Homo sapiens: one gene and its partner. The protein of the gene in region 2 interacts with the protein of the main gene of each other region in a pairwise test. Each region holds a gene or a part of one and is shown on either strand. Other genes may lie near its edges.

Evidence for each region. The genes of interacting proteins can lie anywhere in the genome.
Region 1: the proteins of BDKRB1 (region 2) and RETREG1 interact in a two-hybrid assay, tested with the Homo sapiens proteins (one large-scale study listed by BioGRID and IntAct).

What each region holds. Positions count from the first base shown.
Region 1 is NC_000005.10:16,610,498-16,613,997, reverse strand, and holds part of RETREG1 (reticulophagy regulator 1), read left to right. Parts: intron 1-3,500. UniProt on the Homo sapiens protein: Endoplasmic reticulum (ER)-anchored autophagy regulator which mediates ER delivery into lysosomes through sequestration into autophagosomes.
Region 2 is NC_000014.9:96,255,049-96,259,009, forward strand, and holds the start of BDKRB1 (B1 bradykinin receptor), read left to right. Parts: upstream 1-1,161; 5' UTR 1,162-1,252; intron 1,253-3,961. UniProt on the Homo sapiens protein: This is a receptor for bradykinin. Could be a factor in chronic pain and inflammation.

The DNA.
Region 1 (3,500 bases), on a different chromosome or scaffold from region 2:
GTTCAGAATTACTTGTTGCTTTTGCATTATAATTCATTGGAATTTATGACCCATTTATTAATGTCATTAAAATTTTGTTTTTTTTTCCCTTTTATTTGTTGCTCTGGGGGTTAAAATGATTTTCAAGGACATTACGTTTTCTTTAAATAATGTATTTCTTCTCAAATGATCTTAAATTATGTGATACTCTAACCTTCTGTGTCTTGGGAACTCTAAAGCACTGTATTTTCTATGAGAAAAAAAGATCAATTTTAAAACTGTGGGGAACCCAACCAAATCTGTCTTAAGCAATGGGATGTTGTTTTCACTTTAATTGATGTATTTCATTTTTGTGGAAGTAAACTTTTTAAAGATATATTTTTGAATGATTTAGCACCTGGCATTAGCAGTGGGTTTTAGGAGTCTGAATTTGACTCAAAAGCTTCAACATTTATTACCTGCCCATTATCTGCAAGATTTTGGGCAAAAATTGTGACACAGCCGTAACCAATGGGTATAACTAAAAGTTGCATGAATTAAGTGTGGTGGAAGATTCAGGAAAGGATAATTCATTTTGATATGGTTTTGGGGAACGTGGTATTGTGGATGGAAGAGATTGTGGGGTTCTTAATAAGGAGATCATGCTTAAACCTCAGTGGATAAGAATGATTTGGGAGATCTAGTAGATGATCAAGAGCATTCTAACCCTGAGGAATACAATGAACACAATAGCATCTTGAAGGTGTACCTAATATTTCAACCACTACACAGTAAACAGATGCAATGGCAGCATGGGCTGGTAGAAAATGTAGTGGGAGATAAGGTTGGCTAGGTGGTTTGTGGGGGCAGTAGTTGCCTCAGATGCTATGTTGTGTGTTTGGATTTGTTTTTTCTGTAGGCAACAGGGACCAAAAAAAAAAATACTTTGTAGAAGTATCCACAAATAATTTAATGGATAAGTACACTGTGGTTCATTTATTTATTATAAATTGTGATACCATATAACAATGAAAATACAGCTTTAGCAACAACAGGGATGAATTTTACAAATGTAATTTTGGTCAAAAGATGCACAAAGTAATATATGCTGAATGATTCAATTAAGTTTTAAATGGTGCAGGAACTGAACAGGATTGGTTAGGGATACACACATAGGGGATAAAACTACAAAGAAAATAAAAGACATTCTCGAATCCGAGACGTGCAGGCACACACACACACATATGCATTCTTATCTATGGTATATTTTATGAAAAATACTGAAATATGAAAAAATGCTAAAAAATGATATTCATGAGAACTCAGAGGAGTTTGGTAAAATAGAGGCCACATAGAGTGCCTGTCTCAAAAAGCAGGGTTTCCACAACTGAAGTAGATTGGGTAACAGTCCCATAGTTTTGTGGTGATGAGGGGCCTCAGATAATACTATCTCACTCATTTCACCAATGAAGAACATGTTTTTAGAATTTTTTCCTTCATTTAAAATTTTATTTATTTAAAAATTAACTAACATAGCCTTACAGTTCAGATGTTTAAATGTACAGAAGGGTAAACATTTTGATGTCTTCCCACGCCTGTCCCTGTCTACGCAGTTTCCTCTCAGAAGCAACCCATGTTGTACTTGTAAGCACATCCTGAAATGGAATGAGCCCAATGTAATAGAAAATGTTGGTTTTTTTTTAAATATCAACTTTTTGTGGTTTACCACCAATAAAATGCCCATACTGTAAGTATACAGTCAAATGTATCATATGTGCCTGTGTAACCATACTGGCAGTTGAGATCTAGAATATTTCATCACCCTTAAAGGCTTCTTTGCATCCCTGTTCTATCAGCACCCACCCCTGGGGACTGATCTGTTTCTGTCACTGTTGACTAGGTTGGACTTCCCTAAAGCTTTGTATAAATGGTGTTATTTAGGGTGATAGGGTGATGTCCTTTTTTTTTTTTTTTTGAGACGGAGTCTCTCTCTCTCTCCCAGACTGGAGTGCAGTGGTGCGATCTTGGCTCACTGCAACCTCCACCTCCTGGGTTCTAGCGATTCTCCTGCCTCAGCCTCCCGAGTAGCTGGGACTACAGGCACATGCCACCAAGCCTGGCTAATTTTTGTATTTTTAGTGGTGACAGGGTTTCACCATATTGGTCAGGCTGGTCACGAACTCCTGATCTCAGGTGATCTGCCTGCCTCAGCCTCCTAAAGTGTGTGATGTCTTTTGTGTCTGGCTTTGCTTACTCAGCGTAGTTTTGTGATTCATCTCTGCTGTGTGTATCAGTTATTTGCTGCTTTGTATTGCTGGGTAGTGTACCACTTTGATGATGTACCACAATTTGTTTATCCATTTGCTAGTTGATGTTCCTTCAGGTAGTTTTCATGTTTGACTATTATGAATAAAGCTATTGGAAAACATCACGTAGAAATCTTTGTGTGAAGTGTCTGTTTTTGGTGAGGAAAGTGGTAAGCCCTGATGGTTGCCTTGGATAGGCACAGAATGGAGTGAAAGGTCCGTTTCCTAAGTCTTGCTGATCGCTGTATTGAAATTTAATGGCTTATGATGCAGCTCCTCTTTTGGGCATGTTACATCTGCAGCCTAGAAAGCGTCTCTGATGTGATTTTTTTTTTTATTCAAGTTCTAGGGTACGTGTGCACAACGTGCAGGTTTGTTACGTATGTATACATGTGCCATGTTGGTGTGCTGCACCCATTAACTCATCATTTACATTAGATGTATCTCCTAATGCTATCCCTCCCCACTCCCCCGACCCCATGACAGGCCCTGGTGTGTGATGTTCCCCTTCCTGTGTCCAAGTGTTCTCATTGTTCAGTTTCCACCTATAAGTGAGAACATGCAGTGTTTGGTTTTTTTGTCCTTGTGATAGTTTCCTGAGAATGGTTTCCAGCTTCATTCATGTCCCTACAAAGGACATGAACTCATCCTTTTTTATGGCTGCATAGTATTCCATGGTGAATATGTGCCACATTTTCTTAATCCAGTCTATCATTGATGGGCATTTGGGTTGGTTCCAAGTCTTTGGTATTGTGAATAGTGCCGCAATAAACATATGTGTGCATGTGTCTTTATAGCAGCATGATTTATAGTCCTTTGGGTATATACCCAGTAATGGGATGGCTGGGTCAAATGGTATTTCTAGTTCTAGATCCCTGAGGAATCGCCACACTGACTTCCACAATGGTTGAACTAGTTTACAGTCCCACCAACAGTGTAAAAGTGTTCCTATTTCTCCACATCCTCTGCAGCACCTGTTGTTTCCTGACTTTTTAATTATCGCCATTCTAACTGGTGTGAGATGATATCTCATTGTGGTTTTGATTTGCATTTCTCTGATGGCCAGTGATGAGCATTTTTTCCATGTGTCTTTTGGCTGCATAAATGTCTTCTTTTGAGAAGTGTCTGTTCATATCCTTCGCCCACTTTTTGATGGGGTTGTTCGATTTGTTCTTGTAAATTTGTTTAAGTTCTTTGTAGATTCTGGATATTAGCCCTTTGTCAGATGAGTAGATT
Region 2 (3,961 bases):
CCCCGCCTACATTACTAAGTAACAGGAAAGGCTAAGATTTGGAGCCTTCCTCCGGTTCAGATCTATCCCGGGAGTAATGGAAGATGCTTGCCTGTTGACAATTTTTTTTTATTAAAAATCCCACCCAGGAGGTCTCTCCTGATAGGAGGGGACCATCCTATCCTCTAAGGCAAATTCCAGCTTCTTCCCTGAAATGTACATCCGCTACTGAGCCTCAGAATGCTATTTGTTCCACCTACTTCCACAGTTTTAAGGTCTTCAGCAACAGGAGAAGACAGCAGGAAAACTTGAAGTGCAGTTGGCTCCCGCTGAGATGTCACTAGCAGAAAAAGGGAACACAAGCAAAAGGCAAGATTCTAAAGACAGAGGTGACACCTTCTGCTCCAAACATTTGGAGGGTCACCTTTCCAGAAGTCAGACTCGAAGTCCTGAATTCTGGCATGAATGAGTTCTCCTACGTGTAGGGGGTGGCCTGGAAAGATCTTAATTTGTAAGTTGACAGGTAAGGGGCCTTCAGTTGGAGAATCTTGTCACCTGATTCTCAAAGCCAAAAATATCTTACTGTCTGAAACATGAGGTCTTGAGTAGTTCAACTTGACCCATGCAGACATAATTTGAGAGACGCCAAGGAGGATTAGGAAAAAATGTATCTGGTCTTACTCAACTCTGAACATTGCATGAGTCAAACGTTTTCCTAGCTCTCTGTTTGTGTGATGGGTCCACTCTGATGGATTCTTGGCGATGTATCTTTCATGACCAAAATTCAAAAGAGGCCATTCGAAGTGGCTCCCACAAAAGCTGCTGCAGAGCCCCAGACATTCAGAAGCCAATAGTGAAGGGGCCAAAAGCCATCCCTCAATGTTCACTGACACTTTGCGAGCCTTGGGGCAAGTTGGCGATGTCAAAACATGTTTTTAGGGCGTGTTTGCCAACATACAGGTCTTGGGCAGGATTGCAGACCTCTGCAGATGGTACCAAAGTAAAGGGGGAGATGGTAGCTGAATAATCTCTTATCATCCCTAAAGTGCAAAGTGAAATGAGAGTGGATTTTTCCTTCCAAATCCACTTGGAGTGAGTCCCGAAAGACTCACTTTTGCGGCAATCCCCACAATGACATCACTGGAGCGGAGGTTATATAATTTAAAGCAACCACATCTCCACAGCACTTCCCAGAAGAGAAAACTCCTCCAAAAGCAGCTCTCACTATCAGAAAACCCAACTACAGTTGTGAACGCCTTCATTTTCTGCCTGAGTAAGTAAATGACCACCTTTTTTTTTTCTTTTATGAGAGTACAATATGAGAGGAAATCTGTGTCTCTTAGAAAAACAAAAAACTTCCTTTTACACCTACCTATTGGCAAAATTTTCCACTTCTGTGAGGGTACTTTTTAAAAATAATTCTAAATCAATTTAAGAGACTTTTATTTCATGCCTAGTTTGGGTCTTAATTGCTTTTCCAGAACAGGAGGAGGAGGGAAAGGTTTTAGAACTCGTAGGAAGGTTCCAGTAGCTCCTTATATCAAAGTCAGGTGAAACATGTCAGGGCTGAATGCAGCCACCAGAGTTCGCATGGACTGACCAGTTACAGCCTGCAAATTCTGAATCATAAAAATTAAATTAGTCTCTCTGGGATGGCTTACAAGATTTCATAAGACCAATAACTGGTTGGGTTATTCGTGGCTTGAAAGTAGCATCTTACTATGTGACCGTGCTGATGGTCTTTAACATCTGTGGCTGAATTTCCAATGCCTTTAACATCACCATGCTGTTGAAATTGGAGTTAATTTGAAGAATTAACTAATTTGTTGAAGAAAGTCACACTGTCTCATAGCCTAGGTTAAAATGTGCAGAATTCAGAAAATACCACACAGGAATTACAGAATTGCCATCTCTTGTAGACTTGCCCAGTGCCCCTTCTGAGTTCTTCAAATAGGGTCACATATTACTAACAATATCCAGAGATATTGTTTATTGAGCACCTACTATGTTCCAGGCAAATATCAGAGCTAAAGCTGAAAACTGGCAAAGGAAGATTTCTCCTCTCTAGCCAACTTTATAAACACAGACAGCAGCAGGTGAGGACAATCCCTTTAAAAATAAGCCCCATGTGAGCAGACACATGCTGTGGCTGCAGTGGCCCCAGCCACCTCCCCGTCCTGGGGATGGGGGCGGTGTCCACTGACCTAATCAGGTTCGAGCTAAAGTCCCTGCGTAGCTGGTCGTCTCTGGCTTCCTGGGCAGGGTGCAGCCTCACCCCCGTGCTGGTTTCCTAAGGCTGCTATAATTAATTATCACAAAGTGAGTGGCTTAAAACGATGCAAGTTATTATCTTACAGTTCTGGAGATCAGGAGTTCAAACTCAGTCTCGCTGAGCTAAAGTCAAGATATTGGCTTGGCTTTGTTCTCCATCCCCATGATTCAATTATCTCCCACCAAGTCCCTCACACAACACGAGAGAATTATGGGAGCTACAACTCAAGATGAGATTTGGGTGGGGACACAGCCAAACCATATCAGTGCTCAACACCCTCCCATCTCTTCTCAAACTCTCAATGCCCCAGCCCCTCCACCACAGGTCAGGACCTCGCCTCCTTTCTCCCTGAGAAATCCCAACCAATCGCCGGGGAATTCTACAGATTCCCACCTGCCAGCCTCTGTCACCATAGACCTCAGCTTCCTGGCCATCATCAGAGATAGCTAGGAGAGGGATGGTCAGGCCATGTGTGTGCACACTGCCGGGGCACCCCAATAGTCAAAAATTATTTCCCCCAAAAATTAGTATTTACAGGTAGAAAGAGAGAGGAAAGAAGGAAGGAAGGAAAGAAGGAAGGGAAGGAAGGAAGGAAGGAAAGCAGGATGGGAGGGAGGGAAGAAGGGAGGGAGGAAGGGAGGGATGGAGGAAGGAAGGAAGGAAGGAGGGAAGGAGGGTAGGGAGGGAAGGAGAGAAGGAGGGAATGAAGGGAAGGAAGGAAGGAAGGGGAAAAAATCCAACAAAATGGTTATATTATATTGATGGTGTTATAAAGTAGTTCTAGATAAAAACTATTTTCAAAAAAGTCTTTAAATATATATGCATACACCTATGAATATTAAAGCAAAAGAAAACATGTTTATGTTAATCAACTGAACATTTAAAAATAAGATAAGCAAAATAATTGTTCTTGTTGTATATTCACATGCTACAGTTTCTTGTACCTGACTGATACCCTGTCACTGGCATTTTTCACAAGAATGTATTTTCTTCAGTGGGGTCTTGTTATTTTTAATTTTTCCATATAATTGCCTGAAATCTTTTTTCCACAAATTTTACAATTAACAAATTTAAATTAGTACCTTCAATTGACTCTTCTCTTGAACCATAATATATTGAGAAAATGTTCCCTGTGCAGGTTCTGAGTGATAAGCTCTCAGCAAATTCTGCCAGGCAGAGGCTGTTCTCAAGTCCAATTCTTTGCATATGGAATTGCATAAATATTTTAGCCCAGATATTTTCACAGGTGCTGTCTTTGTGCCTTAGTTTGGAATGTAGTGGTGCGATCTTGGCTCGCCACAACCTCCGCTTCCCAGGTTCAAGCAATTCTCCTGCCTCAGCCTCCTGTGTAGCTGGGATTACAGGCGCCTGCCACCATGCCCGGCTAATTTTTGTGTTTTCAGTAGAGACAAAGTTTCACCATGTTGGCCAGGTTGGTCTTGAACTCCTGACCTCATGTGATCCACCTGCCTCAGCCTCCCAAAGTGCTGGGATTACAGGCATGAGCCACACCGTGCCCAGCCCACACGTATTTTTTTTTAACCAGATTAAACCTTTCAAATAAGTTGTACCTACTTATAAGTTTTGAATGTTTTGTCAGATTCAGATACTGCAAAAAAAAAAAAAATCATTGGCTTTCTCAATTTCATCTCATTTCATACAGAACATGAATTTATCCAATTAAAAAGATTCTTCCCACAAGCTGAAATG